Linked DNA regions of Homo sapiens. The protein of the gene in region 2 interacts with the protein of the main gene of each other region in a pairwise test. Each region holds a gene or a part of one and is shown on either strand. Other genes may lie near its edges.

The links.
Region 1: the proteins of ATXN1 (region 2) and ZBTB43 interact in binary tests that used the Homo sapiens proteins (3 or more experiments, as listed by UniProt).
Region 3: the proteins of ATXN1 (region 2) and METTL17 interact in binary tests that used the Homo sapiens proteins (3 or more experiments, as listed by UniProt).

Annotation. Positions count from the first base shown.
Region 1 is NC_000009.12:126,811,540-126,815,196, forward strand, and holds part of ZBTB43 (zinc finger and BTB domain-containing protein 43), read left to right. Parts: intron 1-3,657. UniProt on the Homo sapiens protein: May be involved in transcriptional regulation.
Region 2 is NC_000006.12:16,324,384-16,328,040, forward strand, and holds part of ATXN1 (ataxin-1), read right to left. Parts: coding exon 2,011-3,657; intron 1-2,010. UniProt on the Homo sapiens protein: Chromatin-binding factor that repress Notch signaling in the absence of Notch intracellular domain by acting as a CBF1 corepressor. Binds to the HEY promoter and might assist, along with NCOR2, RBPJ-mediated repression. Binds RNA in vitro.
Region 3 is NC_000014.9:20,992,868-20,995,302, forward strand, and holds part of METTL17 (ribosome assembly protein METTL17, mitochondrial isoform 2 precursor), read left to right. Parts: intron 1-250; coding exon 251-324; intron 325-1,101; coding exon 1,102-1,196; intron 1,197-1,675; coding exon 1,676-1,746; intron 1,747-1,926; coding exon 1,927-2,034; intron 2,035-2,297; coding exon 2,298-2,366; intron 2,367-2,435. UniProt on the Homo sapiens protein: Mitochondrial ribosome (mitoribosome) assembly factor. Binds at the interface of the head and body domains of the mitochondrial small ribosomal subunit (mt-SSU), occluding the mRNA channel and preventing compaction of the head domain towards the body.

The DNA.
Region 1 (3,657 bases), on a different chromosome or scaffold from region 2:
TAATGATGACATTTTCCTAGTCACTCAGTCATGAAATTCAAAGTCGGCATTGGTACATCAGTTTGCCTTGCATTACTCTTTATTTTATTTATTTCTATTTTTTTGGGATGGAGTCTCACTCTGTCGCCCAGGCTGGAGTGCAGTGGGGTAATCTTGGCTCACTGCAGCCTCCGCCTCCTGGGTTCAAGTGATTCTTCTGCCTCAGCCTCCCGAGTAGCTGGGACTACAGGCACCCACCACCACACGCAGCTAATTTTTGTGTTTTTAGTAGAGACGGGGTTTCACCATATTAGTCAGGCTGGTCTCGAACTCCCGACCTTGTGATCCACCCACCTCGGCCTCCCGAAGTGCTGGGATTACAGGCGTGAGCCACCGCACCCGGCCACATTACTCTTTTTTAAACAGCTTTACAGAGACATAATTCATAAGTAATAAAGAGGTTTTTTTTTTGGTATATTCACAGATTTGTATACCCATCACCACAATCTAATTTTAGAACTTTTGTCTCCCCTCAAAGAAACCCAGTTAGCAGTTGCTCCCCATTTCTTCTACCTGTAGCCACGAATCTACTTTCTGTCTCTATGGATTTGTCTATTCTGGACATTTCATATAAGTGGAGTCATACAAGATACGGCCTTTTGTGTCCGACCTCTTTCATTTAGCATAACGTTTTCAAGTGCCAGCCGTGTTGTCACATCTATCAGTATTTCGTTCTTTTTTATTGCCAAACATCCTATTCTAAGGATATATCCTGTTTGTTTATCCAGTCATAAGTTGATGGAGCTTATGATGGTTTTCACTTTTTGGCTTTTAAGAATAATGCAGTTATGAACATTCATGTACGAGTTTTAGTGTGGACATCATATGTTTTCATTTTTCTTGGGTATGTACCTAGGAGAATTGTTGAATTAACGTGGTAACTCTATGTTTAACTCCCTGAGGTGCTGTCACACTGCTTTCCACAGTAGCTGTACCATTTTACATGCCCACCAGCAATGTATGGAGGTTATAATACCTACACATCCTCACCGACACCTGTTATTGTCTGTCTGTCTTTTGACAGCCATTTTAGTGAGTGAAAAGGGATGTTTAGTAGTTTTGATTTGCATTTTTCTAATTACTAATGATGTTGAGTGGTTTTCATATGCTTATAGGTTATTTGTATATCTTCTTTGGAGAAATGTCTCTTCAGATCCTTTATCTGTTTTTCAGTTGGGTTATTTATCTTTTTATTATTGAGTCATAAGAGTTCTTGAGGTATTCTGGATGCAAGTCACTCATTAGTTACATGATCTGCAAATAATTTCTCCTATTCTGTGGGTTGTGTGTTCACTTTCTTGATGGTATCATTTGTACCTTGTACTACTGCTGTATCTTCCTGCTGACCAGTTCTGTCAGTCTCATCAATGCCACCCCTTTTCCATACCCACTGTTACTTTTTTTTTTTTTCTTTTTTTTGAGATGTAGTTTTGCTCTTGTTGCCCAGGCTGGAGTGCTTTGGCATGATCTCGGCTCACTGCAACCTCCGCCTCCCAGGTTCAAGCAGTTCTGCTGTCTCAGCCTCCCGAATAGCTGGGATAACAGATGTGTGCCACCACGCCCGGCTAACTTTGTATTTTTAGTAGAGACAGGGTTTCACCATGTTGGCCAGGCCGGTCTGGAACTCCTGACTTCGAGTGATCCACGTGCCTCAGCCTCCCAAAATGCTGGGATAAAAGACGTGAGCCACCATGCCTGGCCCCACTGTTACTTTTATTACTACCTAGACTACACTTATTGAAATCCTATAATTAGCTTCTACTTCAGACTTTCTCCTGCTTTAGTCCGTCAGCAGATCAACCTTCCTTAACCATGCCTCACAGCACGTCACTTAGAAGTTTTCAGTGCTGCCCCAATGTAGACGTCTCATTCGGCTTTTTCTAGATTTATCTCCCATCACTCATTGTCACTCATAGAAGGAAGCACAAGTAATGATGTGTGTGTCACCAGGGTTAGTCTTGAGTGAAAGAGAGCCGAGGGAGATCTGAAATGGCTTTCTGATGGTAATTTCACCATAATCTAGGATCTTGCCGTTAGTGTGATTGGACCAATAACTCAGTGTCTTCAACATATCATACTTATGATGTACCAAACCCGCAAGAGATTAAAGTATACAAACCAGAATGCCATGTGATTTATAATTTTTCTTTCTATGTTAATAAGTGAGATTGGCTTGTAGGGTTTTTTTTGTTGTTGGCCAATTTTGATACCAGAGTTTTGTATAAAATTTATGAATTTTCTCCTACCCTATTGCCTTGTCCTCTTCTCCCCCTCTACTTTTTACATTTCTAGTTTTATCATATTGTGTAATCCATTGTATAGTCACATGTAATCAAATGTGCCCTGTGCATTTCCGCTTTGGAGAATTTATTGATGTTCTCTGTAGCCACGTATATTATCATTTTTGTAAATGTCCTACAGACAGTAGAAAAGGAGTATTATTTGTAGAGTATATAGGTATTGCATTAAATTAGCTTTATTGATAGCTGTCTAAACCTATAGATTCTTGTCCTTTGCCTACTTGATTTATTAAGAATTAAAGAGGGATACTTATATTTCCTGCTACAATTACAGTTCTGTTACTGTTGCCTTATTTTCTAACATTGTACTCTGACACATAAAAGTTCACAGAGTAAACTTCATTGTGAATTATAGGTTTCATCAGTTAACAATAAACTTTCATCCTGATTTTTACAGATGAAATTTACATCTGTAAAATTTTTACAGATGAAATTTACATCTGTAAAATGTAAATTTTACATCTGTAAAAATTTTACAGATGAAATTTACAAAGTAAATTTACATTGAAATTTACTTTGATATTAGTATTGTGTTGCTTGACTTTTGTTTTCATGTGACTTTTTTTTTTTTAAACTTTTGACCTTTTTGGTGATAAATTCTTTCAACTTTTCTATGTCTGAAAAAGTATTTTGGGCCGGGCGCGGTGGCTTACGCCTGTAATCCCAACACTTTGGGAGGCCGAGGTGGGCAGATCACGAGGTCAGGAGATCGAGACCATCCTGGCTAACACAGTGAAACACTGTCTCTACTAAAAATACAAAAAATTAGCCGGGCATGGTGGTGGATGCCCGTAGTCCCAGCTACTTGGGAGGCTGAGGCAGGAGAATGGTGTGAACCCAGGAGGCGGAGCTTGTAGTGAGCTGAGATTGCACCACTGTACTCCAGCCTGGGCAACAGAGCAAGACTCTGTCTAAAAAAGAAAGAAAGAAAGAAAGAAAAAGTATTTTGCCTTCACTTTGAAGATACTTTCATGGGTATAGAATTCTAAGTTGACAGGCCTTTCCGCCCCCTCCCCCACCTTCATTTCAGTATTTTAAAATGGTCTCCTGTCTCCTGGCTTGCATTGCTTCTGAGGTTCTCTGTACACAAGGGGCCTTTTTTTTGTCTGGCTGCTTTTAAGATTTTCTCCACTGATTTTAAGTGATTTGATTATGATGTGCCTTGCTGTAGTTTTTTTCATGTTTCTTGTGCTTGGAGTTTGTTGAGCTGCTTAGGTCTGTGAGTTCGTAGTTTTCATCAAATTTGAAAAAGTTTTGGCTGTTGTTTTCACATATGTATAAAATGTATGTGTGTATGTGTGTATTGTTTATATATATA
Region 2 (3,657 bases):
AAGGCCACAGTGAGCTATGATTGCACCACTGCATTCCAGCCTAGGAGACAAGAAACACTGTCTCAAAAATGAAAAAAAAAAATGCCCAAAACAATTCAAACCATTAATTAGTTTATCTTTTTTTTCTTGTTTTATTTTATCTGAATGTCCCAAATAGCAGCTATTTCATGACTATTTTCAACTCAAGCTGGAAGGAGGCTCTGTCCCATTTGAATGTTTTCAAATCCTAGATGGAAACACTTGTAGAAAGTACGCTCGATAGCCAGGAAAGCTCTCAGCTGCAGGCTGAACCTGCTGGACTCCCAGCAACTTGGGCAGTGAAAGAAATGGGCTGTGGAATAAATGCATGTAATCGATCTAAGAACCTGGAAAAGGGTAGATTGAAGGAGCCTGTGGAAATTAAGAGCGTTAACCATACTTCCAGTGACTCATCTTGGCTACAGCTGACTTTACCCCAAGCCCAGCAGGTCACCTGGGACAGCCCTGACTTCTCAGATTGTATTAACCACGCTTTTATTTTCTGATGCTTTGATATTTTAGTGTCTTGTGGATCCCAGAGGTATAGTCTCTCCTAGGATTAGCTAATTCCTAGAGGCCTGACTTTTATATGCAAACCAACCAGTCCAGAGCTAATTCCTAGGAGCCTGACTTTCATATGCAAACTAACCAGTCCAGAGCCCACTCCCCAGCAGCCTCCTATATTGGTCCATCACACTTAGGGCTGCCTTCCATCTGTTTTTTTTTTTTTGTCTGAGACAGAGTCTTGCTGTGTGTCCAAGGCTGGAGTGCAGTGGCCTGATCTCGGCTCACTGCAATCCCCACCTCCCGGGTTCATGCAATTCTCCTACCTCAGCCTCTGGAGTAGCTGGGATTACAGGCACACACCACCATGCCCGGCTAATTTTTGTATTTTTAGTAGAGACAGGGTTTCACCATGTTGGCCAGGCCGGTCTCGAACTCCTGACCTCTGGTGATCCACCCGCCTCAGCCTCCCAAAGTGCTGGGATTACAGGTGTGAGCCACTGTGCCCAGCCCTTCCACCTGTATTGATCACCCCAGCACCAGCAGCCAGACAACTAAGGACAGCCCCTACACCCCAGAGCACACTGGAATTATCCACTCTAACCAATCCTAAACCCGTTTACCCTGCCTCCCATGAAACCACAATAAAGGCTGTTGTTTGCCACATTTCCCCTCACTCCCTCCACCTCCTGACCCACCTGGGGCTTCCCCAGGTGCCCCCCACTTTACGGTGTTCTACACCTCTTGGTGTAGAGTGCCCTTTCCTCTTGGGATCAGAGAGTATAAAAATTATCTCGTCAAAGAGAGTTGTCTGCTGATCTATCTGTTGGCCTTATCATACCTAAATAATAAGACATTATATATATGTTGGAGACCGGGCCTTGCTATGTTGCCCAGGCTTGAGTGCAGTGATAGTCACAGGTTCAGCCATAGCTCACTACAGCCTCGAACTCCTGGGCTCAAGTGATCCTCCTGCCTCAGTCTCTGGAGTAGCTGGGACCGAAGGCATATACCACTGTACCCAGCTAATAAGACATATTTTAAAACATGGATGTTGCAATGGGATATGATTGCTTTAGCATCTAATCCCCTCACTCCAACGGCATCCTCTGTCTTTTCCTGGTAAGAAAAAGTGCCGAATGACCACTAGAAGGACCTGAAGTCCAGCAGCGTTTCCTAATCAGGGTTCCTCATCTTAATCACAGAATTCAAAAAATAACTAGAGTGGTGAGTTTCTGGATTGTCTCAAGGACTCCATAACTAGCCCCACTCTCCATGCATGGAGGTTAATTCATTACACACAGCAGAGATCACGGGGAAATGGGGCTTATTTTTTCTAGAGAACGCAGTTGGGAAAGGCCGAGTCTAAGGTCTAGGTGTACCCGAGAACCCTTAATCCTGCCTCATAGAAGCAATTCGTCTTGCCAGGAGATGATGATGGCATCACGGTGTGGTGTCCCATCCCTGTGCCACCCTGGCTAACGTTACCTGGGCTCGGTGCTCCCCGACGGCGAACTGTATCACGGCCACGCCCGGGCTATGGCTGTCTTCAATCCTCTCTACGGTGCTGGAGTCGATCTTCAGGTCGTTGCTTATCTCTGCACTCTGGATGAAATCTTCTGTTTTTAAGTCTTCCACCTTCTTTAGCTCCCCGTTGGCCAACTGGATGATGGAGCCTTTCATGAAGTAGGGAGGCAGCGTAGGGGGAGCCGCCGCCGGGGAGGCCACGGACTGCACCACAGGCAGGTGGATCTGGGCCTGCACCATGGCTGGGTAGGCGGCCTGGGTGACCAGGGCCTCAGGGTTGAAGTTCTCGCTCTTGGGAAGGGCGGTGGTGACGAACGTGTGAGGCACTGCAGCAAACTGGGGGGATGACGTGACTATGGCCGGGGCTGCCCCCGACGCTTCCATGTCAGTGCTGCCGACCGGGATGAGCAGGGGCTGTGTGCCGGGGATCACCAGGTGCTGGGGCAGGCTGCCGGCGTAGGTGATTGCTTGCTGCTGGCCGCTCAGGTAGCCGATGACAGGGGGTTGAGTCCCTGCGTAGAAGGCCGTGGCTGGCAGTCCCACCGGGAGTGGCTCTGAAGCACTGTGTGTGGTCTGAATGACCGTGTGGGGTGAGAGCGCGTAGGACCGGTGGCCAGGCTTCCCTAAATGCAGGCCACTTTTGTCGTTGAGGGTAGAAGGGGAGGCTTCACGATGAGTGGCCTGTTGCACCTCCAGGTCAGCTGCGGGCGTGTTGCTGTTGGGCAGGACCATCACAGAGGCCCGGACCCCCGAAGGATCACGACTGCTGTAGTCTGAGGGGCTCGGGTGGACCACCACGTGCCTGGACTCGTACGGGTGAGGAACCGACTTGCCGCCTGCCTTGCCCAGGCCCAGGTCGGCTGAGGACGGGGCCCCGTACCGCCGGCTCTTCTCCATCTCACCGTTCAGGACCTCCTTGGCCTGGATGGCCTGCTGCAGCCGGCTGCTCTCAGCTTTCTTGGTGGCCTCCCGAGGGACAAAGTGGCTGCCGGAGTCGGCGTATTGCATGACGACCTGGGAGGGGGGCCCCAGGGTGAGCGTGTGTGGGATCATCGTCTGGTGGGGGTGGAGGTGGACGGGGATGGCCGGAGGAGAGGCGGTGCGGCCGGTGTTCTGCGGAGAACTGGAAATGTGGACGTACTGGTTCTGCTGGGCTGGTGGGGGGGACCCCGGGGTGATGAGCCCCGGAGCCCTGCTGAGGTGCTGCTGCTGCTGCTGCTGCTGCTGCTGCTGCTGCTGCTGCTGATGCTGATGCTGCTGCTGCTGCTGCTGCTGCTGCTGCTGCTGCTGCTCAGCCTTGTGTCCCGGCGTCTGGCTCAGACTGCCCATGTTGGCCAGCAGAGTGGAATAGGCCTCCAGCTGGGAGCGCTGGGATGGAGTGGTGGCCCCTGCGGCCGAGGCCACTGCACTGGTGACGGGGTTGGCGGTTGGGGGGATCAGCTGTGATGGGATGAAGCTGGCATAGGTTCCACTGTATTGGGAGGACCCAATGAACTGGAAGGTGTGCGGCAGGTGAGCGTACTGCACGGGGGACACCGGGGTCCCTGGCTGCGGGGTGGCGTACGCGGCAGGCAGCGTGGTGGCCACGGGGACAGACCTGGGAGCGCT
Region 3 (2,435 bases), on a different chromosome or scaffold from region 2:
AGAGTGAGACCTCATCTCTTAAAAAAAACACAAAATAAAGACGTTCTCTTTATCCTGTGAAAGCTTTCTGTGACCCAAGAAAGGTTTAGAATCACTATTTTAGGAGATTCTTATCCCATAAGGTATTTGTATTGAATCTCAAAAGGCATTCACATCTCACATCCTCTGTGATAGCCTCCTAATTCACATTTATCAAGGTCCTAAATAAGTATCTAATTACCCTACTGTGGGATGTTGTATATTTCTTCAGATCCGGGCTCGAAATCCAGCATTTCAGCCACAAACTTTGATGGACTTTGGCTCAGGTACTGGTTCTGTCACCTGGTGAGTAACTTTCTTCAGCCCTATCTTGGTCAATTTTAGCTCTAGAAAGCCATACTTACACCACTCCAAAATTAACAGACTGGAAAACCAGAGGGAGAATAGGCAAGTTGGGAATCTATAATGTTTCTTCCATCAGATTAGGCAAGGCAGAAGAAGGTATATGGATTGGGGCCAGAACTTAAAAGAAATGTCAAGTAAAAAAAGGCGCATGTGTAGAAAAATTAAAAAGAAAAGGAATTATCAATCAAAGTTGTTTTTGCCTACAAATAGTATTTTGAGTCTACCTTTTTTTTTTCTTTTTTGAAACGGTGTCTCACTCTGTCGCCCAGGCTGGAGTGCAGTGGCACAATCTCGGCTCACTGCAGCCTCCACTCCTGGGTTCAAGTGATTCTCCTGCCTCACCCTCCCGAGTAGCTGGGACTACAGGTGCACGCCACCACACCCAGCTAATTTTTGTATTTTTAGTAGAGACGGGGTTTCACCATATTGGCCAGGCTGGTCTCTAACTCCTGACCTTGTGATCCGCCCACCTTGGCCTCCCAAAGTGCTGGGATTACAAGCATGAGCCACTGTGCCCAGCTGAGTCTACCTTTTTTTTTTTAGGAGTTGTAAATAAAACAAGAAAATAACACTATTAGTTATTTTATTACTAACTATACAACTACTTTAACATAACACTCTCTTTTCCCAGGGGTGGGGTTGGGTGTAAATGGGCCTCTTGTAGAGATGACTCTTGGTCATGGGAATTGGTGATTTATAATAATTTTGCCATCTTAGGGCTGCTCACAGTATTTGGGGCCAGAGCCTACGTGAATATATGTGTGTGGACAGATCAGCTGCCATGTTGGTTTTGGCAGAAAAACTACTGAAAGGTGAGTGCAAGAGCACTTCCAAAGTTGAGGGAGTTAAGAAAGCAAAGGGGTACTAGTAAAAGTGTTTTACTGGGAAGTAGAGAAGAGGGTAAAAATTAAGATGAATCTGGTTTACTTTTAAAGTTATAGTCAAGCAAAGGGTGGTATTAGAGGTTTCTGCTGGACTGAGGATGGGTTGGGTAAGAATCAAAGGACAGGAGGCCTAATATTCTCCCTGCCCTTTTTTTTTTTTTTTTAATTAGAGGTAGGGTCTCCATATGTTACCCAGGCTGGTCTCAAACTCCTGGCCTCAAGCCATCCTCCCACTTCAGCCTCTAGGGTAGCTGGGATTACAGGCACGCACCGCCATACCTGGCTCATCCCTGCCCTTTTTGATATACACTTTACCTATTCTTGGGGCCATGTTTCTTATCTGGATATCTCTTCAGTTTATACCTAACTTCCTACACACTCACAGTTGCCTCTTCTTTTCTCCACAGGTGGTTCAGAATCTGGGGAGCCTTATATTCCAGGTGTCTTTTTCAGACAGTTTCTACCTGTATCACCCAAGGCAAGTGGCAGTGTTTAGAATATTCTAAATGTGGAATGTGGCAGATGGAAAACTATGGCTTGAGCTTTGCAGCCCAGCACTGAGTGTTAGAAGATAAAAGAAATTTAGCGGCTAGGACTTTGTTGTATTCTTGGGATGTAGAGATGTTGAGTCTGTCATGTTCCTTGTCTTGGTCCTCAGGTGCAGTTTGATGTAGTAGTGTCAGCTTTTTCCTTAAGTGAACTGCCCAGCAAGGCTGACCGCACTGAGGTAGTTCAAACCTTATGGCGTAAGACAGGTCATTTCCTGGTGAGTTAAAATTCCTTGTTCTCCTTAAGTCTTGAAGCAGCTTCATGGATTTCATGCCTTTGCTCCTCTCATTGTCTTTATTCTTCACCATTTTTCTCCTTCATGGGTTTCTTTATCCCTCTTTGAGGGTCTCCATCCTGATTATGTAATGCCTATTTCTTTTTAGGACTCCTTCTCCCTCTATGATTGCTCTTACACAGCTACTGACATTTATACTTTCGTGTAATTCAAGTCTTCTGCATATTTTCCCCTTTTGTGAACAGGTACTGGTGGAGAATGGAACAAAAGCTGGGCACAGCCTTCTCATGGATGCCAGGGATCTGGTCCTTAAGGTAAGGCTTCTTCTTCCCTCACTCCCCCACCCATATGGCACCAATTACTGTTACTCTCTTGAAAACGAA